5 separate regions of the Homo sapiens genome follow, and all the other regions are linked to region 3. The links come from fine-mapping of genetic effects on gene expression. A gene starts in region 3. Each other region holds a variant in brackets. All regions are shown on one strand. Distances are between the middles of the regions.

Region 1 (6,482 bases), 63 kb after region 3:
GGTGTCTGTTCCTAACACACAGGGAAACCTCACATCAGGGTGCAGTATATATATGTATTTTTGAGACAAGGTCTTGCTTTGTTGCCAAGGCTGGAGTGCAGTGGTGCCATCATTACTCACTGCAGCTTCTACCTCCCAGGCTTAAGCAATCCTCCACCCTCAGTCTCCCGAGTAGCTAGGACTATAGGTGTGTGTCACCCTGCCCAGCTAATTTTTTGTAGAGGTAGGGTCTTGCTACGTTGCCCAGGCTGGTGTTGAACTCCTGAGCTCAAGTGATCCTCTTGCTTGGACCTCTCAAAGTTCCGGGATTACAGGCATAAGCCCCAGCCTGGATGCAATATATATATATATATATATATATATATATATATATATATATATATATATATATATATATGTATGTATATAGACGTGTATGTGCATATATGTGTGTGTGTGTGTGTGTGTGTGTGTGTGTGTGTGTATATTTTTTTTTTTTTGAGACTGGGTCTCTGTCACCCAGGCTGGAGTACGGTGGCACCACCATGCCTGGCTAATTTTTGTATTTTGTTGTTGTTGTTGTAGAGATGAGGTCTAACTATGTTGCCCAGGCTGGCCTTGAACTCCTGAGCTTAAGCAATCTGCCCACCTCAGCCTCTCAAAGTGCTGTGATTACAGGCGTGAGCCATTGTGCCCAGCCAATCATTTTAAAATTGAGATAAAACTCACATAATATAAAATTTAACATTTTAATCCATTCTACAACATGAATGAACTTTGTTTTTTGTTTTTGTTTTTATTTTATTTTGTTTTTAAGACAGGGTCTTGGAGTCAGGTGTGGTGGCTCACGCCTGTAATCCCAGCACGGTGGGAGGCTGAGGCGGGCAGGTCTCGAAGTCAAGAGATCGAGAGCATCCTGGCCAACATGGTGAAACCCCATCTCTACTAAAAATACAAAAATTAGCTGGGTGTGGTGGTGTGCACTTGTAGTCACAGCTACTCGGGAGGCTGAGGCAGGAGAATCGCTTGAACCCGGGAGGCGGAGGTTGCAGTGAGCCGAGATCATGCCACTGCACTTCAGCCTGGCAACAGAGTGAGACTCCCTCTTAAAAAAAGAAAAAAAAAGACAGGGTCTTGCTCTGTCACCCATGCTGGAGTACAGTGGTGCCATCTCTGCTCACTGTAGCCTTGACGTCCCAGGTTGAAGCAATCCCCCCATCTCAGCCTCCCAAGTAGGTGGGACTACAGGTGCATGCCATCATATCCGGGTAATTTTTTGTCCATTTGTTTGTTTTTGTAGAGATGAGATTTCGCCATATTGCCCAGTCTGGTCTCAAACTCCTGAGCTCAAGTGATCCACTTGCCTCAGCCTCCTAAAGTGCTGGGGTTACAGGCGTGACCCACCACACTTGGCCGACAAATGAACTTTGAAAACATTATGCTAAGTGAAATAAACCGGACACAAAAGGCCAAATATTGTTTGATTCCACTTATATAAAGTACCTAGAATAGTCAAAATCATTGAGAGCAAATAGATTAGAAATCTCCAGTGGGGTCTGGGGGCGGTGACTCACGCCTGTAATCCCAGCACTTTTTTTTTTTGGGAGGCCAAGGCGGGCAGCTTGCCTGAGGTCAGGAGTTCGAGACCAGCCTGGCCAACATGGCAAAAACCCATCTCTACTAAAAATACAAAAATTAGCTGGGTGTGATGGCGCATACCTGTAATCCCAGCTACTCGGGAGGCTGAGGCAGGAGAATTGCTTGAACCCTGGAGGCAGAGGTTGCAGTGAGCTGAGGTTGCACTGCTGCACTCCAACCTGGGTGACAGACTGAGATGCCATCTCAAAACAAAACAAAACAAAACAAATCTCCAGGGGCTGGGGGAAGGGAGGGAGTAATAGCAAGTATTTAATGGGTATGGAGTTGCAGTTTAGGATGATGAGAAAGTTCTGGAGATGGATGGTGGTGACAGTTGCACAATATTGTAAATGTACTTAATGTCAATGAATTGCATACTTAATAGTGGTCAAAATAATAACTTTTATGATATATATAGTGATAATAAAATGTTTAAAAAAGACATTTACCACTTAACCATTTTAAAATGTACTACCTGTGGTTTCTAGTACATTCACAGAGTTGGGCAATCACCATTATAAAATCAATTTTAGAATATTTTCTTCACCCTACAAGAAACCCTGCACCCATTAAGGAGTCATTCTTCATCCCTCTCCCCCCAGCCCCTGGAAACCATTCATCTGCTTTCTGTCTCTGTGGATTTGCCCATTCTGTACATTTCATATAAATGGAATCATACAACATGTGTCTGATTATGTGTCCTATCTTCTGTGTCTGGCATTTTCCATTTAGCCTAATGTTTTCAAGGTCCATCCATGTTTGAGCACAGATCAGTATTTCATTTCTTTTAATGGCTGAATAATATTCCATTGTATGACTGGATCACATTTTGTTTATCCATCCATTGCTTGATGGACATTTGGTTTGCTCCCACTTTGGCTATTATGAATGATGCTGCTATGATCATTTGTGTACAAGCATTCCTGTGAACATGAGTTTTTATTTCTCTTGGGTATATATCTAGAAATGGAATTTGCTGGCTCACATAGTAACTATGTTTATCAAGACGCAACTTGCAGTAGAATCCAGCGCATCAACTCTGAGTCTCTGAGCTGTTGGAGGACATAGACAGCCTAGAAAACAGAAGGGCAAAGGCAATTGAAAGAATCTCCTTTTTAGCTCATACTTCCATTTTTCTCCCACCCCAAAGTGGGTCTGTTATTGAGTCACAAAATTGACAAGTTTGAGTTTGAGCTCCCCTCCTGAGCTGTGAAATCAACCCAAGAGTAGGGTTTCAGTTGGCAGAGGGGTGGTCAACTGGTACATCTGGAGTTGACTTTGTCTATTATCTTTCTAATCATCCCTTTAGCCTAGAAAGCCTTTGCCTTTAGAGCTGTTGGGCCAAAATCTAAAATCAGCTTGTGAAAGTGCTGTCTCGCAGCCTCCTGGTATGTGAGAATTTGTCCATACTTGATACACAAATAACTATTTTGCTATTGACTGTTCCTCAGCCTGATCTATTCAAATGAATCTCTTTGAAGACATGCCACCTACAGATCACGGTATTTCAACAACATTTGAACTCTTTCCAAGTATAATCTGTAA[T/C]AATTTCTTCATTTTCACAATATTTGCCCTTTGAAACAGGCCCTGAGCTTGTGCGTTTAAAGGGGGGAGTGGGATTTAGAGAATGTCAAGCAAGCGAAATGGTTTAGGTTGGTTCATTCTGTTCTGTGCCCATGAATAGCGCTTGATTCATGGACCGCAAGTGGAATGTTGAACAGGACAGGCTCGTCATGGGGTACAGCAGAATTAGACTCAGCATACTCTCCAGACTTTCTCTCTCTGACCAGATGGGCAAGCCAAGCCTCAAATAAGCACAAATCCTCTGATAACAGTTTATACTTCCAAACAGCCCACAGGAAATGGGACCCTTGATAAGAGAAGCAGCTTCACTTGTAAATTACAAGCATTCACTTACTAACATTTAAACTGACAATTATCACAGCTTCAAATGCTGGGCTCCATTGGAAAGCAAGTCAAGTTGTTCATCTGTTGGGTTGGTGGCTGATCCCTTCTGTGGTTTGCTTACAAGTGAAAACCCTGCTGCTGGTTGGAACCCATTCTGCTTGATTTGGACTTGACAGAAGTACCTGGTACAAAGGAAAAGACCTTTTAGCAGGGAGAACAGGGTGGCAGGTGTGGCCCCCAGGGGGCCACTGAAAAGCCACAGCAGGGTAAGTCACACTGCCTGCAATGCTGCAATGGCACTGAGCCCATGTGAAGGCACAAGGCCTGGTTTATGTTGCCACTGCCTTCCTGTGTGACCTTGGACAAGTTGTTCCCCATTTCTGGGCCTCAGTCCCTTCCTCTTTAAACATGGGGGCTGAAGCAGATTACACTGAGGGAGGCCCCTGCTCTATTGTGCTGTGCTTGGAAAGCCTCTCATGTAGCTCTCAATGCAGATCTGATGAAGAACCTGCAAGGACATGGATTACATTTCATTTTCTTTTTCTTGTTTCTTTTCTTTTTTTTTTTCTTTGAGACAGAGTCTCGCTCTATTGCCCAGGCTTGAGTACAGTGGCGCTATCTCAGCTCACTGCAACCTCCGCCTCCTGGGTTCAAGTGATTCTCTTGCCTCAGCCTCTTGAGTAGCTGGAATTACAGGTGCCCGCCACCAAACCCGGCTAATTTTGTTTTGTATTTTTAGCAGAGAAGGGGTTTCCCTGTGTTCGTCAGACTGGTCTCGAACTCCTGACCTCGTGATCCGCCCACCTCAGCCTCCCAAAGTGCTGGCATTACAGGCGTGAGCCACCGCGGCCGGCAGCATTTCATTTTCAAGAGATGAAGGGGTGTGTTGAGAAATGCACTTTACACATGTACCCTAAAACTTAAAGTATAATAATAATAAATTTTAAAAAAAAAGAGAGAAATGCACTTTAGAATTGTGTTGTCTGGAAAGGATAGGCTAGGCCCCAATTCAGCAGCTAGACCCTGGCCTTGATCTATATAGAATCTTAGAAATCGTTTCAGTGTGTATGCTTTCCGCATTCATCCTGTTTCTAAAGACACGATGACTCCTTTTCTTGACAACTAAAAGCTCCTGGCATGAGCTCTCTCAGTCTCACTCTCTGAGCTCTGGATCACAGGGTGAGTGTGGAAAGGTGGGCAGAAAAATCTGTGTATGATTCCGTTCAGCCATGGGTGGGACGTGGCAGAGCCTCAGAGGTGTGTCTCAAATGTGGGGCTAACCAAAGGACCTGCCAAACCTCTTTTTGCTTTTCTCTAGCAGTTTTGGAACCCAGACTTTCCATATTATCCTGGCTCAACCCTCATGCGGGAGGAGAGTCATGGGGCCTCTAGGTTGAAAAGGACCTCAAAGGGAGACTAGGCTGGATATCTTGAAGAATGGGAACTCCCTTCCTACAGAGGCAGCTCCTCCATCTTGAGGTTGTTCTGCCCCTTAGGAAGTTCCCGAATCCAGCCAGGCAGGCATGGTGGCTCATGCCTCTAATCCCAGCACTTTGGAAGGCCAAGGCGGGGAGGATCACTTGAGGCCAGCAGTTAGAGACCAGCCTGGGCAACATAGTAAGACTCATCTCTACAAAAATAAAAATTAAAAAAATTAGCTGGGTGGGGTGGCATGTATCTATCGTTCTAGCTACTTGGGGGGCTAAGGCAGGAGGATTACCTGAGTCCGAAAGTTTGTGTCTACAGTGAGCTATGATCATACCACTACACTCCAGCCTGGGTGACAGGGTGAGACTCTGTCTCTTTTAAAACAAGAAAGTTCCAGAGTCCATCACCCTGTAGCTTTTCCCCTTTATCCTTATTTTCATAAGCTGAGGCCACAGAATACAGATCAAATTCCCCAGGAGCTCCCTCCAGGAGTCTCCCTCATCACTCCTTTCCTTTTTACCCCTTACAGTCATCTTTTTCTCCGGTCCAAACACTCACCAAGATTATTCATTGTATGAAAATTCCGACTTCCATAGGTCAGGTGCAGTGGCTCACACCTGTAATCCTAGCACTTTGGGAGGCCAAGGCGGGCAGATTGCTAGAGGTCAGGAGTTCAAGACCAGCCTGGCCAACATGATGAAACCACATCTCTACTAAAAACGCAAAAATTAACTGGACGTGGTGGTGCATGCCTGTAGTCCCAGTTACTCGGGAGGCTGAGGCAGGAAAATCGCTTGAACCTGGGTGGCAGAGGTTGCAGTGAGCCAAGATCACACCACTGCAGTCCGGCCTGGGTGACAGAGAGAGACTCTATCTCAAAAAAAAAAAAAAAAAGAAAAAGAAAGAAAAGAAAAGAAAAGAAAATTCTAACTTCCCTTTAACATCCTGATCACTGGCTCCTGAAGCAAATCCAGCCTGTTAATGTCTCTCAGAGAGGCTACTGGTACCCAGAACATGACATGCATCCAGGCACTGTGAGCTGACCAGGAGATGAGTGGGATATCACCTCTGTCCGTCTAGAGCAGAATAAGCTCCTCAGAGGGTATAGGGATAAAAGATGTACAGAACTTTCTGTTGTGATTCAGGAAGCATCTCTAACTCTCTTAGCCCGTTTTCTGTTGTTTATAACAGAATACCCCAAACTGGGTAATTTATAAGGAAAAGGAATTTATTTCTTACAGTTGTGGAGGCTGAAACGTCCAAGGTTGAGGGGCTGCATCTGGTCAGGGACTTCTTGCCGGCGGGGATTCTGCAGAGTACTGAGGTGGCAAAGGACATCACATGTCGAGGGGGCTGAGCATGCTCACTCAGGTCTCTCTTCCTTTTCTTATAAAGCCACCAGTTCCACTCCTGTGATAACCCATTAATCCATTAAACCATGAATGGATTAGTCCACTCATGAGGGCAGAGCCCTCATGACACAATCATCTCTTAAAGGCCCCACCTCTCAATGCTGCCACACTGGGGAT
Region 2 (6,482 bases), 25 kb after region 3:
CTACTTCTTTATACTATTTGATACGAATCAGGAATTACTTTTATGACCAGAAAAAATACAGTATAAAGGGAGAAAAAAACCTATGCAACAAAACATTTTTCAAATAGATCCTAGAAGGTACAGGTACCTGTGAGGTAATTCTGAGGATCTGGGAGTCCTCACATATGTCATCCCCACTATCAGGGGGTGGACAGGATGTTGCCAGGTCACAGGGAAAAGGAAAGAGCTTAAGCTGGGAAGCAGGTACCAAAACCTGTGGTCCTAACTTGTGCCCTGGGGCCAGCATTTGGTGTTTCTCTTTATATTGCCCTGTGGTTATGCATGGTGCACGCTATCTTCTGGCAGCAAAGCCAACCAAAGCGAAACGAAAACCAACTCATGATTTTCACTAGACTTGTTGTTGTTGTTGTTGTTGAGACAGGGTCTCGCTCTGTTGCCCAGAGTGGAGTGTGGTGGTGCGATCTCCGCTCACTGCAACCTCCACCTAGGTTCAAGCAATTCTCGTGCCTCAGCTTCCCAAGTAGCTGGGATTACAGGTGCGTACCACCATGCCCGGCTAACTTTTGTATTTTTAGTAGAGACAGGTTTTTGCCATGTTGGCCAGGCTGGTCTCAAACTTCTGGCCTCAAGTGATCTGTTCGCCTCAGTCACCCAAAGTGCTGGGATTACAGGGATGAACTGCTGTGCCCAGCCTCCACTACACTTTAGCAGAAATAAAAACATCTCAGCTCAGGCACAGCTCTCAAATCTACAGTCTTTCATGATGAAGGAGTCAAGTTTGGGTTCCCTATTCCTGAGTTAAATAAAAAGTAATGCTGTACTTTTCGGTTTTGTTTTTTAGTTTTTTGTTTGTTTGTTTGTTTTTTGGTTTTTTTGTTTGTTTGTTTGTTTTTAGACAGAGTCTCACTCTGTTGTCCAGGCTGGAGTGCAGTGGTGTGATCTCGGCTCACTGCGACCTCCGCCTCCCAGGTTTGAGCAATTCTCTGCCTCAGCCTCCCGAGTACCTGGGATTACCAGCACCTGCCACCACGCCCAGCTAATTTTTTTGTTTTTAGTGGAGACAGGGGTTTCACCATGTTGGCCAGGCTGGTCTTGAACTCCTGACCTCATGATCCACCCACCTTGACCTCCCAAAGTGCTGGGATTATAAGCGTGAGCTACCGTACCCGGTCTTCTTTTAGGTTCTTTAAGACATAAGAATGTATAGAAAGCTACTGAGATAGGAATTATTTGGGGGAAAGGGGATCTTAGAACCTGATTTTTGAAAGGGCCTGTGGTAGGCTACAAACTGGTCCCCCAGTAGAGATCCACATTCTAATCACCAAAACCTGTAAGTGTTAACTTACTTGTTTTGTTTCCTCTCTCTCTTATTACCCACAATAATGTTAATTTAAATGGCAAAAATAAATAAATAAATAAAATGAGGTTTATGTACATGTGATCATGTTTAGGATTTTGAGATGGGGACACTATTCTGGATTATCTGGGTAGGTCCTACATGCAACCACGTATATCCTTATGAGGGAGGCAGAGAAAGATTTGATGCACAGATGAGAAGGTGATGTGAAGCTGGAGCAGAGACAGATTTGAAGATGCTGGTCTTAAAGATCAGAGTGATGCATCCTTAAGCCAAGAAATGCAGGAAGTTGCCAGAAGCTGGAAGAGACAAGGAATGGATTCTCCCTTTGAGCTTCCAGAGGAAACAGGGCCCTGCCAGCACCTTGGTTTCAACCCAGAGATACTGATTTTAGACTTCCGGCCTCCAGAACCGTGAAAGGCTAAATATTCCTGTTGTTCAAAGCCCCCTAGTTTGTAGTACTTTGTTATGGCAGCCCAGGAAACTAACACAGAGTCCTTAGAGTTCATCTAGTCCAAGGTATGGGCTTTTTCCTTTGTTTGTTTGTTTGTTTGTTTTTGAGACAGGCTCTCCCTCTGTTGCCCAGGCTGAAGTACAGTGATGCAATCATGGCTCACTGCAGCCTCGACCTCCCAGGCTGAAGCAATCCTCCCACCTCAGCCTCCCAAGTAGCTGGGACCACAGTTGGGCACCACCGTGCCCAGCTAATTTTGTTTTGTTTTTAGTAAAGACAGGGTCCCAGTATGCTACCCAGGCTGGTCTCAAACTCCTGGGCTCAAGCAATCCTCCTCGGCCTCCCAAAGTGTTGGGATTACAGGCATGAACCACCATGCTCAGTCTCTAATGATTTTCTTAGCACCGAAATCAATTACTTTTCAAATGAAATCATTGCCTATAGAAACAACAGATGCAAACAGAGGAGTGATGATTGAAAAAGGAGGTCCAGATCCCCACCTGCTAAATCCCCTCAATGGTGGCTCCTGAAGCACCTCCCAGGACCTTCCACCAACAGAGTGTGAAAACACTTGTCTAGTTTCAACCTCATTGTACAGATGAATAACTTGAGCCTCTAGGGGCTGAGTGATTGGCTGAAGGCCTCCCTTAGCAGGCAGCAAGGAACACTTATGGGGAGGAAAACAAGGCAAGTTACTCCTGCCTGCTCTCTCATCTTCCCTTGCCTGGTTTGGCCAAATCCCTGTCTCCCAAGCAAACAACTAAGAATACGTTGCTGTCTCTATATGAATTTTGTTTTTAGCACTAGTTCCAGTTTTGAACAGGGACTGCCAGCTGTGTCAAATATGGCGAGGCTCAAATGAAGTATTTGCTCATGAAGAGCACAGACCTGGAGCAGGCTGTTAAGGCATCTTCGGAGATGAAAAATTACTGCCTGATTCCTCACCTGTATTTGCAAATTGAGTCTCGTGGGTATGACTGCAACAGTGGGTGTGAGGAGGTGGGCAGGAATGAATAGCAAAGTTAACCAGCTGTCGGTGAACCCGGAAATATGAATCCCTAAGTGGATCAAGAAGAGCCCAGATAAGAGCACAGGTGAATGCCACATCACATTTTTCTTGTTGTTGTTAGATTTTAAAACATTTAAGGTCAGTTCTGCTAAAAGGCCTTTGTGGAGGATAAAGAAAAGGTTATAATAAAATATTACTCCCCTTTTCCCTCTGGCCTTGGTACTAACAGACAAGACATTAAAAGTCAGGTTCTCTTTCCTTCCCAAGCATAGTCAAGATAGGATGGCATTTTCTCCTTCCTTCCTTCCTTCCTTCCTTCCTTCCTTCCTTCCTTCCTTTCTTTTTTTGATGGAGTCTCACTCTGTCGCCCAGGCTGGAGTGCAGTGGCGTGATCTCGGCTCACTGCAACCTCCACCTCCCGGGTTCAAACCATTCTCGTGCCTCAGCCTTCCGGGTAGCTGGGATTACAGGCGTGTGCCACCATGCCTGGCTAATTTTTGTATTTTTAGTGGAGATGGGGTTTCACTATGTTGGCCAGGCTGGTCTTGAACTCCTGACCTCAAATAATCCTCCCGCCTTGGCCTCCCAAAGTGCTGGAATTACAGACGTGAGCCACCGTACATGGTAGGACGGCATTTTCAAAGGGAACTTTACAAGGAACTATGAGGAACCCAATGGGGCATTAAACAAACAAGATCCAAACCCTCTCCAGGGGTTAAAAATGACTGACCGTTTACCAAGCTGATTCCGAATTCGCGACCGTTTAGATGCCTATTTCCAGGGCCACTGGCCTCATCCCTGCTACTTGACCAAGTGGCACTGAGAGAAGTATTGCATCCGGAAAGAGGAAGGCCAGGGTGTGTTCCAAGAATGAATCAAATAATGGGAAGCCTAACTAAGACCAGTGGATGAGCCAACAATGCCAGCTGGCTGCTCAAGGCTGCTGGGAGGGAACACTCAGTGCAGCAGATGGAACACAACTGGCAGGCAACAGCAAATGGCATTAGTGTGGCTTCCTTTGTTCCTTGGTGTTGCTAGGGAGGATGTCCTCTCTCCATTCTG[C/G]AGGCCACATGGTTCCACCCTCCCCAAACAGTAGGGAAGGATGAAGGTCCCTAGCTGCCACCCACTGCTGCTCCAACTGAAGGAACAATGTGTCTTTTTAATTTATTTATTATTTATTTATTTATATTTGTTTATTTATTTTTTGAGACAGGCGTGGCTCTGTCGCCCACACTGGAGTGCAGTGGCACCATCATGGCTCACTGTAGCCTCGACCTCCCAGGTTCAAGAGATCCTCCCACCTCAGCCTCCTGGGTAGCTGGGACTTCAGGCATGTATTGCCATGCCCGGATTTTTTTTTTTTTTTTCCCCGAGACGGAGTCTTGCTCTGTCGCCTAGGCTGGAGTGCAATGGCACGATCTCTGCTCACTGCAACCTCCGCCTCCCAGGTTCAAGCAATTCTCCTGTCTCAGCCTCTGGAGTAGCTGGGACTATAGTCGCGCTCCACCACGCCCAGCTAATTTTGAGTAGAAATGAGGTTTCGCGATCTTGACCAGGCTGGTCTCGAACTCCTGACCTCAGGTGATCCACCTGCGTCACCCTCCCAAAGTGCTGGGATTACAGGTGTGAGCCACCACGCCCGGTCTATGCCCAGATAATTAATTTTTTTTTTTTTTTTTTGTAGAGACAAGTTGTTACCTGCTGTGTTGCCCAGGCTGGGGGACCATGTGTCTTTATGCAAAACACACCAGGCACTTGCAGAGGTGGCCAGCTTTCCCCAGAAAGGACCTCTCACAGACTTTTTCTTTCCATTTGTTTGTTTGTTTGTTTGTTTGTTTGGCTTTCAGGTAATGTTGCTTCTCAATTCATGATCTCACCATCATTGGTCTGTGAGATTCTTCTCTGGCTGAATCAATCTATCCATCTCTCCAGTCTTTTTAATTACTGTTTTCCACTCTAATGCTCCTCCCCTCAGTGGCAACCACTCAAGTGTGTGCTCTGTCAAACTGTGTAGAGGGGTGTGTGTGTGTGTGTGTGTGTGTGTGTGTGTGTGTGTGTTTTCAGTAAACATAAGTGGTAGTGGCCTGGAGAGTGTGTTCAGTCTCTTACTGGGTGCTTTTCCACTGAGCCCTGTGTGTGTTAACTGTCCATGCTGCTGTGTGTTCCTGAGTTGCTTGTAACCACTCATTTGCTTCTATTTTTCCCCAGTGGTGGACACCTGGATTGCCTCCAATTCTGTCCTAGCACAGGCTCTGTACAATAAACATCCTTGCATGGGTCCCTATAGCAGGCTCAAGATGGACCCCAAAGGTATCAGGTCCTAATGCTTGGAGTCTGTGAATGTTGCCTTATATGGAAAAAGGGTCTTTGCGGATGTGATCGTGTTGAGGATTTTGAGATGGGGAGATTATCCTGGGTTATCAGGGTGGGCTGGAAAGGAAGTCACATGTTGTATTGGTTTTCTGTGGTTGCTGTAACAAAGTACTGTACCACAAATTTGGTGGCTTAAGACAATAGAAATCTACTCTCTCACTGTTCTGGAGGCCAGAAGTCTGAAATCAAGGTGTCAGGAGGGCCACAGTGCCTCCGAATCCCCTCCTTGCCTCTTCCGGATTCTAGTGGACTCAGGTGTTCCTTGGTTTGTGGCAGCATCACTCCAACCTCTGCCTCGTCTTCACATGGTCTTCCCTGTCTCTCTGTCCTTTTGTCCTCTTATAAGGACAGCAGAAATTGGATTAAGGGCCCCTCCTACTCCAGTATGACCTCATCTTAACAAATTACATCTTCAAAGACCCTATTTCCAAATAAGGTCACTTTCTGAGGTTCTAAGTGAATGTGAATTTGGGGGGACATTATTCAGCCCACTACTCTTATATCCTTATAAAAGAGAAGCAGAGGTAGATTTGACACTCACACAGAGAAGGCAGAGTGAAGAGGGAGCGGAGAGATTCGAAGATGCTGGCCTTGAACATCAAAGCGATGCAGCCGCAGACCAGGGAAGGCTGGCAGCCACCAGAAGCTGGAAGAAGCAAGGAGTGGAGACCCCCCAGAACCTCCTGAGAGAGCATAGCCCTGCTGACATCTGGGGTTCGGCCAAAGGATACTGATTTTGGACCTCTTGACTCCAGAAGTATCAGAGAATACATTTCTGTTGTTTTGAGCCATTGAGTTTGTGATATTTTGTTACAGCAGCCACAAGATACTCAGTCCCTTTGTGGGCCTGCAGGAGAATTTCTTGAGGTTATACCCAAGAATGGGCTTACTGGGACAGTGTGGGCACAGACAAGATTTGGCTAAATGCTACTAGGTGGCTCTCCAAAGCGCCTGCATCCATCTAGCAGGACTCCCAGCAGCGGCACACAATGGTTCCTCCTTCTGCTTATTCTAGCCAACACTTGGCATCATACAGCTGATTTTTGCCAATCTGACATGTGTGTATCCTATGTCATTGTTGTCATTTCCATTTCTCCGATTACTAATGAATCTGGGATCCCAGCATCTCTTCACATACTTACTTGCCAGCCTTTTCAGTTTCTTCTCCTAAGAATTGCCTATGCATATGCTTTGCTCATTTTCCTGTTGGGTCTTTTTCTTGTTGTTTTGCAGAATGTTCTTGCATATTTTATCCATTAATCTCCTGTTGCTTTTAAACAGCAAATATC
Region 3 (5,000 bases):
TTATCTTGAATCCTATAGTCACTTACGGTGGCCTTTTGGGAGCATTAGGATCCTTCTTCTTCTTGCCTCCCTTAGCTGGTCCATAATCCTTCATTTCCCGATCATAGCGCACTTTATCTGCCTTTGCCATTTCATCAAATTTAGATTTCTCTTTCCCGGACATCGTCTGCAAAGAACAGGACTCGTTAAATCCCTCGATGCAGTGAACACATACCTATTCAGTTTCTTGTGATTAAACTAGCAGTTGCTAGAACCACTTGCAAAAGGGGGTAGGTAAAGGCCTGAAACCTGTGCAGGGCCTTAAAAAAATAAAAGCACACACACAAAATTCTTAAGACAAGCAAAAATGATTCTAAGTAAAAGTAAAAGAGGAAGCAAGCAGCTATCTGGGAGAAAATCTGAAGGTAAGTAACCCCAAAGTAAGAAACCCAACTAAGACTAGTTTGAAGGGTACCAAAGAAAAATACCTTCCACCTCTCAGAGCACTTCTTGGAAAATTCCGCAAAATTGACAGGGACCTCTGGGTTTTTCTTCTTATGTTCTTCTCTGCATGTCTGCACAAAGAAGGCATAAGCGGACATCTTGCCCTTTGGTTTCTTGGGGTCACCTTTAGCCATCCTGACTGTGATAAAAGAGAAACAAAGAAATACAATGAGGAAAAGCAAGGAGGAATTGACAAGAAGTACAAGACGTACCAAAGGCAGAGCAAAACTAAAACTACACTTGCTGTTAGGAAGTCCCCTTCCCCCAATGCCGGACACCAGTGGCAGAAGGCAGAGTAGGAAAGAAATCAGCTTCATTGTCGCTTGTCATTTAACTTTTGACCAGCACGAAGCGCGCTGGTTTGCGAGTTACTTCTCAAAAGCGATCAAGTGCTCCAAATGGAGCCGACCCAAGTAGGGTACTCAGTGTTACGTTTACAGAACTGCTATGTTTTGGAAACTACAATCACAAAGTGGGAAGGGTAGAGAGAGGACACATTTGGTGGGGGTGATAGAAGCTTGAAATCTATGACTTAAGACTATCTGGTCATCTGCTAACTGTTAACACAATTAAAAACAACAACTCTTACCACTGCTGAACACAAGACCAAAGCAGGAGAACTATACGTAGGGGACATCTGAAATTGTCACTATTGTTGATGTGTTTTGGCTTACTAAAAAAACGGCTTTACAACACGGGAGATCTGGAAAGTGAGCAGGTACCCCCGTACTATTAGTTCAATTCATCACTTCGTCACTATCTAAAGGGGGAGGGTGTATAAAAAGGGCTAGTCGTGCTCATCTGTAACCCAGAATGCAGGTCCAGCCGAGAACACTTTCTCCAAAGTTTCCAAATAAAAATGCAGCTGCGGCATGTCATCGTCCCTGTCCCACCCCCCAGCTTCCCGCCATCTTTTCCTTTTCCCACACCCAAGGTCATCATGTAAAACTAAAGAGCTCCCCTTGGCAGCAGCCGCCCAGGAGGCTGCCCAACAGAGACCCGCAGCGGCGGCCCGGGCGGGGCGGGACCGGGAGCGGGGGAGTCCCGGCCGGCAGCAGGCAGCCCGCCTCGGCCCCCGTGCCGGGTCACCGGGACACCCGTAATTCACCTTCCATTTTGTCAAAAGCCTCCTGATGAAAGAAAGTGCCCCTGAAATCCGCCGCTGTCATCCCCGGGGGACGCGCGGGGCCGGGGGCGGCGGCGGTGGCGGTGCGCGGGGGGTGTGCGGCCGGGCCGGCGGCAGCCGCGGCACTGGTGGCGGCGTCCGCCGCGCCTCGGAGTCCCACTCGCTAAAATGGCTGATCCGCGCGCGGCCGGCGCGGGCGGCGGCGACAGCGGCGAACAAAGCGGCCCGGGCCCCGCCGCCGCCGCCCGCCCGTCGGCCCCCACCCCGCCCCGCCCCGCCCCGCCCGGGCCGCCCGGGGGCTCGGGGGCCCGGGCCGGACCTCCCCGCCCCCCGGCGCGGGGCGCACTCCTCGGGATAACAAAGGCGCCCGTGCAGCCATGACGCTCGGCCGCTCCAGGGCCCGCAGCGGCGCCCCCGGCCCTCCGAGCCGCCCGCCCCGGGCCGCGGGCGCCGGGGCCGAGGCCGGAGCCCGCCGGGCGCCCCGCCGACCGCTCCGCCCGCCTCCCCTGCCCTCGCCGGAGGCCAGCGCCGCGCCAGCCATGTTAGCGGCGGCGGCGGCGCCGGGCGGGCGGGAGGCGAGAGGGGGGCGGCCGGCCCGCGCCCCCCCGGGCCACCGGGCGCTCCGCGACGGCCATGTTAACGCAGAGCCAGCGGCGTAGCCTGCGGGCCCGCGCGGCGCCGGGCCAAGCCCGGGAGCGAAGTTTGCCCGTGCGGCGGCCCCCGGCGGGCACCAGCCGCGCAGCCCCCGGCGGGCACCGGCCGCCCGTTCCCCAGCGGAGTCCGTCGCGGGCCGGGGAACTCCCGGCCCCCTTCCCGCTGCCGCCGCCCAGCGCCCACAGCCCGCAGCCGCCCCTCTGCTCGCCCAGCCGCCGCAGCCGCAGCTGCCCAAACATCTGGCCTCGGGGGCCCTGGGTTCCCGGCTGCGGCCCCTGGGGCCGCCACGGGCGGGCGTCCGCCGAGGGGGCCGACCCCCGAAAGCGGGGAGCTCGGGGAACGCGTTGGAAAAGTTGAAACACCTGAATTGCTTCTTCCTTCCCGGCCGCCTAGCAGGAGGGAAGGCGGAGGGGGCGGGAAGGGAATGGGGAGTAGAGGCAGGGGGAGGCGGCGGCAGGGCGCGCTCACGGCGGCGCGGGCCGGAAAGTTGTGCGGGCGCTGCGGCGGCGGCGGCGGCGGCGGCGGCGGCGGCGGCGGCGGCGGCGGCGGCGGCGGGAGCGGGCGGTGCGAGACGTACCTGTATTGTTCGCTAGTCTGGGCAGCGCAGGGCACGACGCGCGGCTCAGCGCTCCCCAGCCTCGCGCTAGCTGCCTCCACGAGAGCCGCCTGATTGGCCAGCGGGCTCTGCCGTTTAAAACAGCCTCCTCGCCTGGCCATTGGCTGCGGGCCTCATGCATATTAAGCAGGCGTGGACGCCCATTGGGCGCGGCTGCTGGGATCATTCATTCAAACAGAACGACCCGCCGGCGCCGGCTACGGAGGCCAAACAGGGAAAGACCTAGTCTCGCCTGCCCGCCCCGCCCACCTCGCCAGCCCCCTCGGGGAACAGAACTGGGATCGCCAAGGGCTTTGAAGAGGTGGCCCTGCGATTCCCGGAGGCCTCGGCCTCTGGCGTGGGAAGATGAAGTCCAGCCCCGCTGCGCTGCCCTCTGCTCCCACCGCACCGCGGCCTTGGCGCCCCTGGCCTGCAGTCAGCTCCCCTGCCCGGGGAAACACCCCTGGGCCCACCACGAAGGGCCGATGGTAGACCACCTCTACCCGGTTCGGCCGCGGCGCCGCGACAGAAACGCGGCGGCAGCTCGCTCCTCGATGCCTGGCGGAGGGCAGCTGCTTGCTCGCCAAGACCTCGGGATTTAGTCCTCGGATCTCGCTGCCTATCCGAAAGCCACCTGATTCCGCTTCTGCGGATCGTGCTCAACTAGGCTCTTTCCACTAAATGCCAGAAGGTCTTTATTTGCGCCCGAAATTGCGGAACCGACGGGCTAAAAGAGGAAAACAAAATTTGGCAAGAGCAGAGAATTTGTGAGAAATTGTAGTTTTGTGGGCAAAGAATAACACTTTTCTTCTTACCCTCTTCACTGTCTCGGTTCAAGGCCCTCATTCCCTCTGCTCTCCTGACACACCCTAGAGCAAAGAATTAAAGCTTCGGGAATGAATGAGTGAATGAATGAATGAATGGGATTTGACTTGATCTCCACTTTGCCATTGGCTGGTGGTATGGCCTTGAGCTAGTCACTTCTTTGGGGATTCAGGCAATGTTTTTCAAAGTATAGGAGCCGCAGTGTCACTTCTGTAAGGGATGTTCTGAAATTCGTGGGGCCGGTGCCTGGATGACTGGCAGGTGTTGCTGGAATTCAATAAGAGGAAGGAACGGCCGGGGATACTAAATATCCTACATTGCATAGGACAGTCCCACGCAAGGAAGAAATACTCCACTTCAAATGCAAGTATCAGCCCTATTTGGAAAGAAAGTATCTGAGGGCCCTTGCCTGGAAAGAATGAAAGGGTGAGAAAAAGAGCAGTTTAAAGATTGACAGTTGGAGAAAATAATGCAAAGGAAGAGATGTCATGAGTTTGGTTTTTCTTTTCTTTGAAAGGCCAAGAGATCCAGCTATTTATGAGTCCTATATTCAGAAATAAGCCCCACCAGAACATGAATTTTCCAAATGCTGCTTCCAGAAACCGTGGCTGAGTTTGAGGTGTGCAAAGGATCTGGCTTCACAGGGCACCTGCTTCTTCACCCCTACGCCCCCTCTTACCAACTCCTCTGAGCCTCCCAGCCAAGCCTGAGCCCCTGAAGCTGGTGCTGTTGGCTCCCATCATCAAGGTTCCAATCCAGATCAAAAGGCAAAGATAGAGGCCAAGCGCGGTGGCTCATGCCTGTAATTCCAGTACTTTGGGAGGCTGAGGCAGGCGGATCACGAGATCAGGAGTTCAAGACCAGCCTGGCCAATCTGATGAAGCCCCGTCTCTACTAAAAATACAAAAAAATTAGCCAGGTGTGGTGATGCATGCCTGTAGGAGGCTGAGGCAGGAGAATCGCTTTAACCTGGGAGGTGGAGGTTGCAGTGAGCCAAGATCATGCTACTGCACTCCAGCCTGGGCAACAGAGCAAGACTCCGAAAAAAAAAAAAAAAAGGCAGAGATAGTGCTGCTTTTGACAAGAGCAGGCAGGTATTGTGTCACTAACCCAGGTCCCCACTACAGACTCAGGAGTTCAGAGATCTTAAGGCCACCTCATCCATCCCTCTGTCCTGTTAGAACCAGCTTAGTGGTTGCCTGCCTTCTGCTTGCATACCTCCACTCATAGGGAGCTTACCATCTTCCTTCATGGCAGTTCCTTCCATCTCCAGCCACCTCTGAGCCTTAAGGTCAACATCTCCACACAGGGTAATCC
Region 4 (6,482 bases), 220 kb after region 3:
GCTTTGCCTTCCTCACTTTCCTTTTGCTTCAGCCTTGATGCTTCCTCATTCGCCCCCTGCTCTGGCGCTTCCTTGCCGCTCTTCTCCCTCCTGCTTCCCTGGCACTCACCGACGTGGCTGTAACCAGGACCATCTTTAGCTTACCCTGATGCGTGTGAGAGGATGCCACCTGCCAGACACTCTGTCCCCAGGCTGGATGTGGCAGGGGTGGGGGGAGAGTTGAGGTGCCATGGTGAGGACTCAGGTGCCCACTGGTGGTCATGCCTGGGGAGCACATAGAGGGCCACCCACAGGAAGGAGACGATCCAGCGCCCACTGGGTTGGCAGCTAGCAGTGATCACGAGGCTCAGGGTGTGTCTCCTGGCCCCCACCTGTCAGCTGGGAAGGTGCACCTGGGGCAGCTTCCACTGCACTCATCACCTGCCCCGCTCTGCGTGGGGCCGGCCACACCTGCCAAAGAGCAACGCCCGCATTTGCCACAGGCCCATTTGGCTCCCACCTCAAGCCCAGCAGCCACCGGGGCAGGCAGGTGGTGGGCATTCTTGTTTAGGCAAGGAGCCTGTAGCCCAGGACGATGGCTTGACTTGCACTGGTGCCTGGTCGGTCGGTCGGTCGGTTGGAACCATGCCCCAGTTTTCCCACAGACCCGGGGCTGAAGGGTTCCAGTCCCTGTGCTACGCAGGGATGAGACACAGACTCTTGACTCTCTGCAAGCAGCAGCAGGGGTGGGGTCCACTCTAAGAACTTGAACACTGGCCCTTGCTGGCGGGAGGGAATGCTTGGTACAGTCCCCGAATCCCTCTTGTAACAGGTGTAGAGAAAGCCTAGATAACTAACTAGACTGAAGCAGCTGCTGGTGGGCTGGCCCCTCCAAGCTCAGGTGGACACAGCGGTTATTCCTGCTGCTGGGAGGAGCAGTTGGCCTCCGCGCGGGTGTTGCTGGGAGGCTGCATGTTGGCAGGAGGCTTTGCTGCATCTACATGCTGAGCCCCACTCAGCCATCCGCCCCTCCCTGCCCTGCATCCATCAATCACTCATAGCGATTGGCTCCCTGGCCCCCGGGCCGCACACGCACACGGACCTGTGGATGGTGCTGAGCCCTGCCATCGGGCGCCCCCTCCACTGGGCGGAGCTGCCGTCTTGACGCGGTGGCAGCTGCCCTATGAGGATGGAGTGCCGGAAGCCTTCGCTGCATGTCGTTGTTATTTCTGAGGACGATGATGAGAACTCCTGGGCAGTGAATTCTGGGACGAACAGTCTTCATCCGGATAAGGATGTTCAGGTGGCTCAGGGTGCAGGGTTTTGAGTTCCCCAGGGGAGCTGTGCTGCTTTTTTAGCTGCAGAGGACTTGGTCAGGAGTTCTCAGTCACGATTGGGGACCCTTAGGTCCTGTGCGCATCACTAACTCTGCCCTTTTCCCTTTGCAGAGGGTCTCAACGCAGACTACGTGAAGGGAGAGAACCTGGAAGCCGTGGTATGTGAGGAACCCCAAGGTGAGAACTTTGTACTCACTGTCCCTTGCTGACGCTTTCCTAGTTGGTCCCAGCACTGAGCAGAACTGTGCTAGAGAAGCAGGGAAGCACAGAGGCGTCTGCTTCTAGAATGTCCGGCCAGAGCAAAAGCCTGCCCTGATGAGCCTGCCTCCCAGTTTCAGGAGCCCAAAGATGCTGGGGTGACAGCCAGGGCCATCTGCTGCCATGCCTGTGACTTCTGGGCATTGCGGCTGCTCGGCCCCTGCCCTTGATTCGTCCGTCCGAGCCAGAGCCCCAGGCACCTCTGCTCCCCATCAGCGAATACAATTACATCCTGAACAGAGCCATGGGGAAGCTTTTCACCTAGACCTAGAACTTTTCCCTTTGCAAATTGCCACAGGCAAGAGGGAACTTGGGTAAAACCCAGACCCTATTGTCAACACCTGTGCCCCTCCCTCCCCCTTCTGTGGTCATCAAGCACTTTCTGGATTCAGGAGCTGTTGGCAATTTGAGGTCGCATAAGTTCAGGCCACAGGCCTAGAGTGCCCAACTGCTCGAGGCAGATATGACCTGTGCCCACGGGATGCCAATGAGGAGGTCCGGAAAGGCTTGCTGGGGTCGGGGAGCAGCCGAGGCCTGGTGGCGCAGGCAGGGAGACTAGGACAGCTCAGGCGAGTGTTGCCAGTGGAACTACAGTGCAGCAGCCGTGGGGACTGGGCCTGGGAGACCAGGAGGGGCTCAGCCTGTGTGGTGTGTACTGGGAGCCAGGTGCCCTACAATGCTGCTGAAGACGGGTGGCAGTGCTGCACCAAATGAACTAAAATAGGCCTGGGTTCAGATGTGGAAAAATGGATTCCGCTGTCGCATCCACTGTCATGAGCTTTGCCACGGTTAGCCACCACGAGGCCAGCATCTGTGTGGGCAGGTGCTAGGTTGAGCCCTTTGTTTAAAATAACCCTTCCAGCAGCGCTGGCAGGAACACGCTCATTTTTTAGGTGAGGAGATGGAGGCTGAGCTGTTTCCAGAGCCTGTCCAGCTTTCTCTTTCTCTCCCCTTGACCGGCCCAAAACTGCTCCCAGGCTCAGGAGGGAAGGTTGCTAAGCGGCCCCCCAGGGGATACAAAGGGAAACCCAGTTCTGTTCCCAGCACGGGCTTGCTGCTGTATTTGCTTCTTCTGTGCAAGACAGAGCAGAATTCCTTCTGACGGCCTCTTTTTCCCCTAGTGAAATACTCCACGTTGCACACGCAGTCTGCAGAGCCGCCGCCGCCGCCCGAACCAGCCCGGATCTGAGGGCCCTGTCCAGCTGCAGGCATGCACAATGGTGCCACCGCTTGTCACCCGGCTCCCCCCACCCCTTCATTTGGACCCGCAGCTGCTGTGCTGCTCTGTGCCATCGGCTCCTTGTTGGTCTGAGTTTCCCGGATGAGCTCTGGGTGTTTGTGAGTTTGGTTTCTCTGCCCTGCCCCAAGCGTGCTGAGACTTGGTGCCGAAATTCAAGAGCCAGCTCTGATAGAAAGCCAGCACCAGCCTCGGGAGCTGCTGAGCCACCAACTCCCAAAGCCAGCCTGCCTCCAGCTTTACTGAGCACAGGATGCGGGGGCCAAGATGATGCTGAGGCCTGATGACATTTATGCTTAGGGGACAAGAGTTTGAACTCAAGGGACTGTGACCCCTGCACACTGGAGTGGCTCATTGTGGCAGGTTTCTGCCAATAGACAGCCCCTGACAGTGGCCTCAAGGAGCTGCAGGTGGGGGGCTCAGCCTGCACCCACTTGGAGCCCCTGCAAGGAGCGAACCGGTCAGCACCAAGTAACACCACACACACGCAGCACCCAGGATGATGGTTTCACTTCAGTCTTCCCCATCCCAGGTTTTATGTTGCTGGGCTTCCGGAGAGCCGGTCCAAGCGGAGGCTTTCAGTGATTTAAGTACAAACATGCATCTCGTGATAGTCCTGCCTTGAGAGCTTAGGAATCTTCCGGATAAGTATGAAGCAATTCGTAGGCCTGTTTCCCATCTGATTCCATAGGGGGCTGGGTGTGGCCTTC[G/C]GGTTGACATGAGAAAGGTCTTTAGCAATCATTTCTGCACCGGAGATGAGTTTTATCCTGTGTTGGGGAGAGGTGCTCACCCTCCACCCTGTGTCCCTGTTTTGGTAGCAAGAGTGACCGATGTCAAGAACGAGCATCAAAGCCAGAATCCTGCTTGTTTGCTTAAAAATGTAATTGGGGGCGGCGGGGGAGGAGAGGGGAAAGAGACATTCGCTTGGTTTAGTGAAACGCAGGTGACTTTGTAGCTCTGTGGTCAGCCTACTTGTCTGCTCTGAGGGAGAGTGCGTGGGGAGCCATGCTCACCGTGGCAAACACAGGAACCCCATGACTCGCCCCTCACCTGGCGTGGAGCTGCCTGGTTTGGGCTGGAGCAGAGCTGGTTTCCTGGAATGTTCCTTTGGCCCACATATGGTTCTGTCCCGGTGAGCTCTGTTGTCAGAGGCTCACGGGACAGAACCACATGCTAGGGTCTAGGGCCCCTGTCTACTGATAGTCAGTTTGCTGTGTCAGAAAGCACTTCTGAAAGCAGATATGAGTCACCAGACAGGCAGGATCTTACAAAACTCACGGGCCTCTTTGGTCTGCATGATGGCCCCATGCGTTTCATAGGCTGTCCACTGAGCGGGATTGTCTGCTGAGTGGGATGAGCCAACTCCAGTTTCTTAAGGAAACCACTGGAATCTGCAGCCCCCACATGCATCTGTCTAACGCATGCCTCGTGTTCGTTTTGCAAACATGCCTGTGGTGGAGGGTGGTCAGTTGTAGCCCTGTGCGTCTCAAGGCTGCCTTGTGAGGCCATTCCCAGTGCGTGCCCTTGAGCTCCTTACCACCCCTTTTCCTGCTCGGCCCTTTAATCCCTGACAGACCTGGACTGTGTGGCTGAAGGGGGACCTGCAGCACTGCAGAAATGCCTCTGCGTGGTGCCATGAAGGAAAGAAACCTTGGCCTGGTCTCGAGAAGCTTCCCATGCTTCAGGAAGTTAGTAAGGGTGGGGTGGCTTGCAGGATTGGCCTGTTTCCAGGGCCTCCCACACTCATTGGCCAGATTGTGAACTTTGTCAGGCTTGTCCCTCCCTGATACCAAGTATGTCGAGAACCGATGGCCCCACCCTCTGGCTGGTGCTGGGCCGGAGGTGGCTATGGAGGATTTTGGCATGCGTGGCCTGTCGCCACCTGGACAGCGTGACCTCAGGGGTTGTCCACTTTACCTTTATGGTGAGGCCTGTCGGATGGCTAAGTCCTTGAAACCCTAGAGCTGTGACGTAGAATATGTGCTGTCTGTGAGACCGTGTTCCCAGGAGCACTGACTGCAGTTGAGAGAGACCCATTTTGCTCTCCCTTACCGCCCCCCGCCCCGGGTGCTTTCTGCACAAAGCCTAGAGCCTGGCACTCAAGCCCACCGGTGGCAGCTCCTAGTGACTGGACATGCCTGGAAGACCCCTCAGCCTTCTGTTTGCAGAACGTTCATTTCAGGAGCTTCTCCTTCCCACAGACATCTTACACTTGCTCGACACTGCCACCTGCAGAAGCCTGGCGGGCTCTGGTCACCATGTGTCTATCTGAAGGTTGCACTGGCCAGCATGGGCCTGTCCCAAGCGAGAGGGGAGACACAGTGGACTGAAAGGACTGGTTGAAAGTGGCCAATCTCTATCAGCTTAATTTGGCAGAGAAAATTTGTAACAACTCTGAGCACATGCTGGGTGAAGTCACAGCTCAAGGAAAGATAAAGCTGGGCGGAAGGAGGTGTGCGTGGCTTCTGGGGTGGGACCCAGAGGGGAGGCTCTGGGACAGGGGCTGGGGTTCAGTGCCAGGGCCCTGAGGAAGAAATGGGGACTGATCTCAAAATTCCAGAATTCCCTGTACATCTGTTCACGTGCTTGTGTCCAGGTGTGACTTGTAAACTGTCTAGTGTTTGCATTAAATAAAATGGCACCGAGCAGATTCTTGTCTTCTGATGGTGTTAAGGCACGCCCTTGGTCAAGTGTTGCCACTTTTCCCTAAAGTAAGTAATTTATGATGCAGAGCTGCCCTCCTCCCCCTCCCCCCGCCCCGCCCCCAGCTGAAGGTATTTCTCGAGAAGCTTAGAATTCTTGCATTTACCCCTCAGTGACTGGCTCAGTGTCAGGACTTCCAAGGGTGACTCCTCACCGTACAAGCAGCTAAGGCCAGGGGATGTGGAGCGACCAATGTCCTGGGGTTAGAGAGGGCAGAGGCAGGAGCAGAGTGCTGCGGGGCCGCTCCCGGGCTACATGGGTTGCGCAGTCCGGGGCCTGGAAGCAGCAAAAAGTCCCAGGCTCACAAATCCCAAGTCGACTGCTCTGCCGCCTTCCAAGCAGGCTGGTAACCAGTGGAGGTTCCAGTTAACGCGCAGTTGTTTTTCAACCAGAAAGCTGGGTGAGAAAGGAGCCCTGCACCTCGTCACTTGTTGCAGCCTCATGGAGAGTGGCCCGTTTGGGATGAAGTATGTCCTTCTCATCAGCTCGCATGTTGGCTTCAAATTGAGAAGACGACAGTTCAGTTCAGGGCATTTCAGCATGAAAACAAACAAGATGCAGTGGACCCTGGGTTTTAACATGGAGGTCGGTTGTTTGTTTTTTCATTTTGTTTTGCCAACCTCGGCTTCTAGTGAAATAATAGCATCAGGTCCTCTCAAACCCGAGACCACCATATGCCTGTCTCGTGCAGGAGTTCTGCATGGCTAGCTGCTATGGTCTCACTGCTGGGGAAGGCTGGCTGGCAAGCAGTCCCCTGGGCATCCTCTGTGCCCAGTGAATACCGGGCTCTCTGGCTCACTCAGTAGTAACGTGTGTGGAGAGGGACAGGGACCCCACACCCTTAACAAGAAGACCGACAACACACAGAGGGCACAGGGGGTGGTGTGATTTCATCCAGGCCTTCGTGGCCCTGAAAAGGTGAACGCCCCTTCCTTTGGGGTGGGGGCAGTCTGAGGCCTTAGAGAGCA
Region 5 (6,482 bases), 130 kb after region 3:
AACCCGGCTGTACATGTTCACAGAGCACTACTTATAATTATAGCAAAAAGTGAAAGAAAACCCCAAATGACCATCAACTGATGAATGGATGAACAAAATATAGTCTACTCATTCAGTGGACTTTTTTCAGCCATAAGAAGGAAGGAAATTCGGATCTATGCTCCAACATGGATGAAGCTTGAAGACATGCTGAGTGAAAGAAGCCAGTCATGAAAGAGCATGTACTGGATGATTCCATTCATCTGAGGTGACCAGAGCAGGCAAATCTATAGAGACAGAAAGGAGATTAGTGGTTGCTGGGGGCTGGGGGAGGGATGATGAGGAGGATGGACTGTTTAATGAGTCCGGGTTTTCCCTTTGGGGTGATGGAAATGTGGAAAATGATAGGTGATGGTTACACAACATTGTGAATATACTAGAAATCACTGAATTTCACACTTTCAACAAAGCTGTTCAAAAAGGAGTCTGAGGTGCCCAAGCAGAATTTAGTGAAGGGAAGAGATGGGAGGAGTCTTCCGGGCAGAGGGACCCCTGAGGGCCCTGAGGTGGGATAGAGCCTGCTGAAGTTTAGCAACCAAGTGAAGTCCAGAGGTCCAGGGTGTGATGGGGAGCTGTCATCCTGTGCTCAGCCATTGTCCTTACAGGTTTGGAAAACAACCACAGCTCCCCAACTGGCCTCCTACAAACAAGTCTCCACACAACAGAGCGAACTTCTAAAAATGTTGTTTTGGCCAAATGCACTTCTGCAACTCCAGAGTTGGCCCCTTTTAGTGTAAGTTCACCACCCTGGCACACCTTCCTTAACTACCCAGCATAAAGTGGATTTTCACTCTGGAGTAATGATGTGGAGAAGAGTTCTTTCATCCAAGCAGTAGTGAACAATTTAAATGCTTGAAACAGTAAAACAGATGATGGTTATTGGCTGTTGTGGTCAGTAGACTAATGTTCCCTCCCTGCTCAGAGGTCCACATCCTAATCTCTGGGACCTGTGAATATGTGACGTTACATGGCAAACGGGACTTTCAAATAGGGCTAAGTTATGGATCTTAAGATGGGAAATTGTCCTGGATTATCCAAGTGGGCCCAATGTGATCAAAGGGGGCCTGATATGTCAAAGAGGGAGGTAGATGTGATTATAGAAGCAGGGTTTGGAGTGATATACTTTGAAAATGGAGAAAGAGCCATGAGCTAAGTAAGGAATGCAGGTGACCTCCAGAAGCTGGCAAAGGCAAGGAAATGGATTGGAAGCTTCAGAAGGAACACAGCCTGCTGGTGCCCCGGTTTTAACCCAGGGCCACCCATTTTAGACTTCTGATCTCTGGAACTGCAAGGTCATAAAATTGTCCTGTTTTGAGCCACTATGTGGGAATTTGTTATAGCACCAATAGAAAATACAGCTGTCTCATCATAGCACTTTACTTTTAGAGCACCTTAGGGGCAGGCATGTGTGGGGGAATCAGACCTGTCCAGCTGCATGACCCCGTGCTGCTGCATCTATCTGAGCCTCAGCTCCTCATTGGTGAAAGAGGCTGCTCATCGGCACCATGCCAGCTCACAAACCACTGAAGTGTTGATGCCATGTGTCTGACATGGCAGCTGCTCCTTGCTAGGTCCTCAATAAGTGGATGTTGTCCTATATTATCTAATCCCATCCCTTCCTTCTACAGAATGGGAAAAGGGAGGAAGAAGATGGGAGCAATTTGCCCAAGTTCGAAGGCACAGAATCAAGTGAAGGATTCAGATGTCTTGACTTGGAGGGGAGGGCTTTCACATTTGGTTAGAAAATACTCATGGTAGGCTGGGTGCGGTGGCTCACACCTATAATCCTAGCACTTTGGGAGGCCGAGGCAGGCAGATTACCTGAGGTCAGGAGTTCAAGACTAGCCTGGCCAACATGGTGAAACCCTGTCTCTACTAAAAATACAAAAAATTAGCCGCGTGCCGTGGCACGTGCCTGTAATCCCAGCTTCTTGGGAGGCTGAGGCAGGAGAATCACTTGAACCCGGGAGGCAGAGGTTGCGGTGAGCTGAGATCGTGCCACTGCACTTCTGTCTGGGTGACAGAGCGAGACTTCATCTCAAAAAACAAAAAAAAAAGAAAGAAAAAAAAGTACTCCTGGTTAGAGAGTTTCTTCAGTCCTGGATTGGCTGTGATACAAGAAACACCTCACTTCTTAGGCAGCATCTGTACAATGTTGTTGCACCTGGGGCTCAACCCATCAGTGGCCTGTGCAAGTAGTTGAGTTGCAACTAGCATATTGAATGAGATAAAATGGAATAGGAAATATTAGTCCTTCACACAAATAAGATCATCCTTTGTTGCAACATTTGTTTCTATGGAGTATCACTTTGTTGTACTGTGTTTCTATCACTTTGTTGCAACATTTATCTCTGTGAGAATCACTTTGTTGCAACATGGGTAGCCCTCTGGTGTAATATTTGTTTCTATGTGCACGTCCGCTGGTGCCTACATGTTCTAGGTAGGGATGGGAAATTTGGGATCCCTGTCAGGGGCATGTGTTCTGTGAAACTGGGGGATAAACGTGGTCTACTAAGTTGCTGGGCTCTGAGTGGTGAGCATGGCCACTGCTGAGCTGGCCTTAATGGTGAGGTGCCTGCTGCCAAGCCTGGCTTGGTTCATGTCTTAAGGGACACATGTGGGCTGGAATGTGGCTTAGAAAGTAGGCAAGCTAGATTCCACTTTAGGACATACAGGAGACTTTCTTTGGGCTCCTCCTGCTTCCCTCTCCAACCTGATCAGGCATGTTCAACAATCTAGACTTGCAGGATATTTGTCATTTCTAGTTTTTTGTTTTGTTTTGTTGTTTTAATTGGCTTGTTGTGTCCTCAGAACATCTCTATTCTTGGCATACCTTCCCCACTGGGCTTGTAAACAGGCACAAATACAGAGTGGAAAAGGGGAAAGGTCAGCTGAATAGCTGTAATTTTATTTTGCGTAGTATTAAATGCTTATTTAATTTATATTATATAGAACTGGCTTAGGGATTTAGTTGGCCAGATCAAGCAGATGTGGGCCTAGTAATGTTCCTTGAAGTTGTCATACATCCTATCTCCCATTTTCTACAGATGCAGGAATCAGTGGGTTCTTACTCACTTGGAAGATTTGTGGTGTGGAATGAGCCAGACTGATTGCCTGCTTCCATGACAAGCTGGCTTCAGAAGGTTATGGAGCAGGATGTACTGATATACAAGGGCTAGCTCATTCTGTGTTTTGTTTTGTATAGTTTCAATTTGAGACAGAGTCTACCTCTGTCTCCCAGGCTGGAGCGCAGTGGTGCGGTCATGGCTCACTGCAGCCTCAACCTCCTGGGCTCAAGCAATCCTCCCACCTCAGCCTGCTGAGTAGCTGGGACTACAGGTGTATGCCACCACACTTGGCTAATTTTAAAAAACTTTTTGTAGAGATGGAGTCTCACCCTGTCACCCTGGCTGGCTCAAGTAATCCTCCTGCCTCAGCCTCCCAAGTAGCTGGGACTACAGGCATGTACTACCATACCCAGCTAATTTTTAATTTTTTAAAAATTTTATAGGGACAGGGTCTCACTATGTTGCTCAGGCTGGTCTCAAACTCCTGGGCTCAAGCAATCATCCTGCCTTGGCCTCCCAATGTGCTGAGATTACAGTCATGAGCCACCGTGCCTGGCCTCATTCTGTTTTTGACGCTGCTCACCAGATTGCTTAGTCAGTGTTTACAAAGCACCACAGAAGTGCCAACGGCTGTTGGGGCTTCATCGCCTAACTGTGTACACAGGTGTTGAATTTGAGTGTGATTGTTGATAGAGGCCACAGTCTGCCATTAGGTATATTTGGGAAGGGAATTTGAGCAAGCTGTTTCCC[G/A]GCAGTATGACGCACATGGACAAGTTCATGGAGAAAAGTTGCACAAGTCAAAGGGAGGAAGTGGTTGAAGTGGAGGTTGTGGTGGGGAGACAGGATCTCCTGGTGCGGGTAGCCAGTGACCCTTAGCACGGGATCCACATGTCTAAAGGAGCATACGACAGCAGGGGACAAACTTATTCTTTGTAGTGCCAGGGTAATCTACTGGCCAGTTTTGGGGTCAACACAAAAAACTTTCCAAAAACGTGACTCTTCCAACGAATGAATGTACTTCCAAAGCACATGCCTGGGTCCCCAGCCCAGTGAATTCTGAGGGGGAGGAGGTTTCTGAGGTTGGTCAGCTCATCCTCCCTGGCTGAGAACCTCTATTATACACTGGAGATTACTTTGCTGCATTTTAGGGATGGTCAATTAGATGATATTTCAGATTCTGTCCAAAGTTAACATGCCTTGAGATAATTGGCTTTGTCTTTCTGAATTTTGATTTTTAAAAAGCATCACTTGCTGTTTTTTTTTTTTTTTTTAAATTGTGGAAAAAGAACCCACATAATACTTACCATCTTAGATGATTTCTAAGTGTATTGTTAGTGGTGTTAAGGGTGTTCACATTGTTGTACAACCAATCTCCATAACTTTTTTATCTTGCAAAACTGAACCTCTAATCATTAAGCAATTTCCCATCTCCCACTCTCCCCAGCCCCTGGCAGTCATCATTCTACCATCTATCTCTGTGAATTTGACTACTCTAGGGACCTCATAAAATGGGAATATAGTATTTGCCTTCTTGTGATTGACTTATTACACTTAGCATAATGTTTTCAAGGTTCACCCATATTGTTAACCACTTGCCGTTATTTTATTTCTTCTTTTCTGCATTTTCTAAGATTTTCACAGTGGACACACATTATTTGAAAACAAATAATATAATTTATGTAATACTGTGAGAGGTATAGTACAAGGGGGGGGGGGCCTGCAGGCCATAGTTAGGCATATGGAGCTTATATTCAGTGTAGTGAGGAGGCCTTTGGGAGTTTTGAGCAGGGAAGTGATGTGCCTTGAAGTTTGTTTAAAAAGGAAAAAGGAGGACTCCCTGCCTGCTGTGTGGAGAATGGATTGGATGGAGCATAGACCTGGAAGGAGCAGGAGGATGGTGCTTGTGGCTGTCCAGGGGAAAGATGATCGCTGCCTGGCTTGGTAGTGGCAGTGGAAAAGTGGTGGGCTTTGTGCATGTGCTGGGGGTGGAATTGACAGTTCTTGGTGACAGGGTGGCTATGGAGAATGAAGGAGAAGATGTCGGGACAGTGTACAGCTTTCTGGCTTGGACAATGCAGTGGGTGGCTGTGCCATTCAGTGAAACAAACAGGGAACTCAGGAAAAGGGTCTAGGTTGGAGAGCCAGGGCTTGGCATTTAGTTTTGTGGATTCTGAGTGGGAGCTGGCTGTGAGATACTGAGGAGTGATTTGAGAGGGAGCAAGCAGATACAGCAAGGATAGATAGTCATTTTATGAGTTTGGTTATGAAGGGGTGGGAGAGAAAGCAGTATCAAGATGGGGATGTACAGTCAAAAGAGGGTTTTCTAGTTAAAATGGGAGAGATTTGAGCATGTTTAAAAATAGATGGAATGATACTTCCCAAATTGAACTACAGATTCAACACAATCCCTATCAGAATCCCAGCTGTCTTTTTGCAGAAATTGACAAGCTGATCCTAAAATTCATACAGAAATCCAAGGGACCCAAAATAGCCAAACAAGCTTGAAAAACAGGCACAAAGTTGGTAGACTCACACTTCCCCATTTCAAAACTTACTACAACACAACAGTAGTTAAGACTGGGTATTACTAGCACAAGGATAGCTGGACCAGGATTACTAGCACAAGGGAAGACAGAGTCCAATTCAGGACATGCTTCCTTGGAGGTGCTATGGAAATCTCCCCTGGGTAGCAGGACCTGCAGGATTGGAATTGAGGACAAAGGTCTGGGTTGGGGATACAGGGTAGGAGGTGCCTCGTGCTCAGCGCCTTTCTCCCTCTGCATTGGCCTGGCCAGATGGCAAGGCTGAAAATCTTGATGATTTCTGAGGTCCTGTTCCACTCTGCCTGGCTCTGATTTGGAAATGTTCATACATGCAACACCAACTAGACATAGATTCTTACCTGACTTAAGAAAGTACACAGGATCCATTGGTGTTTATGCTGCCTTCAGGGGAAGGAAATACCATGTGCATTTGTTATTAGTCAACAGACTGATTTGGGGTGGCCTTGTCCAAATCACTTACATTCTTGTGCCTCAGTTTCCCAAACTTATGTCGTATCAGTAGAATCTAAAGGCTTATCAAGCACTGGGTGAGTTTAGATTAGAGTGTGGCTTTTTTCTCTCTTCATCCATTAAGCTTTTGAACATTTTAATGATTCTCTTATAAGCCATTTACTCATGCATATTTATTGAAGGCCTTCTACTTACTAGTGGATTCTACTTAATACCAAATTTAATAATAATATTAGCTAACATTTGAGGGATTCCTATGTCACATATTGTGCTAAATGCTTTATATATAATGATTATTTAATCCTCACATTAACTCACTGCAGTAGGGTCTCTTGTTATCTCCATTTTATAGATGAGGAAA

Which allele goes with the higher level. Positions count from the first base shown, and alleles are read on the strand shown. Sizes are in standard deviations (SD) of each study's normalised expression. Not every link is listed here.
With allele C in place of T in region 1, the expression in tibial nerve of the gene that starts at base 2,882 in region 3 is higher (moderate effect, 0.47 SD a copy in GTEx).
In carriers of allele G in region 2, the expression in spleen of the gene that starts at base 2,882 in region 3 tends to be higher than with C alone (small effect, 0.26 SD a copy in GTEx).
For the expression in whole blood of the gene that starts at base 2,882 in region 3, allele C in region 4 goes with a higher level than allele G (small effect, 0.12 SD a copy in GTEx).

Evidence for each region.
Region 1: its variant is fine-mapped to the expression of HMGB3 in tibial nerve (GTEx, PIP above 0.99).
Region 2: its variant is fine-mapped to the expression of HMGB3 in spleen (GTEx, PIP above 0.99).
Region 4: its variant is fine-mapped to the expression of HMGB3 in whole blood (TOPMed, PIP above 0.99). The same link has a PIP of 0.9 or more in T cells, blood mononuclear cells and monocytes.
Region 5: its variant is fine-mapped to the expression of HMGB3 in nasal epithelium (TOPMed, PIP above 0.99).

What each region holds. Positions count from the first base shown.
Region 1 is chrX:150,916,994-150,923,475 of GRCh38, reverse strand. It overlaps LINC02927 (long intergenic non-protein coding RNA 2927), which reads right to left and starts at 6,274. Exons shown (of 3, transcript NR_186570.1): 1 at 6,193-6,274; 2 at 3,540-3,707; 3 at 2,538-2,690. The variant T/C (reference allele first, on the strand shown) is at 3,163.
Region 2 is chrX:150,955,680-150,962,161 of GRCh38, reverse strand. No RefSeq gene overlaps it. Among named protein-coding and RNA genes, the nearest start is that of HMGB3, 24 kb to the left of the region's middle. The variant C/G (reference allele first, on the strand shown) is at 3,883.
Region 3 is chrX:150,981,217-150,986,216 of GRCh38, reverse strand. HMGB3 (high mobility group box 3) reads right to left here and starts at 2,882. Exons shown (of 5, transcript NM_005342.4): 1 at 2,841-2,882; 2 at 468-622; 3 at 27-166. The coding sequence starts at 617. RefSeq lists a silencer at 2,852-3,051 and an enhancer at 3,173-3,868.
Region 4 is chrX:150,765,315-150,771,796 of GRCh38, reverse strand. It overlaps CD99L2 (CD99 molecule like 2), which reads left to right. Exons shown (of 11, transcript NM_031462.4): 10 at 1,428-1,493; 11 at 2,696-5,461. The coding sequence ends at 2,763. Among named protein-coding and RNA genes, the nearest start is that of MTMR1, 75 kb to the right of the region's middle. RefSeq lists a silencer at 4,000-4,109. The variant G/C (reference allele first, on the strand shown) is at 3,522.
Region 5 is chrX:150,846,453-150,852,934 of GRCh38, reverse strand. The region is part of intron 1 of CD99L2 (CD99 molecule like 2); the gene reads left to right. Among named protein-coding and RNA genes, the nearest start is that of CD99L2, 49 kb to the left of the region's middle. The variant G/A (reference allele first, on the strand shown) is at 3,858.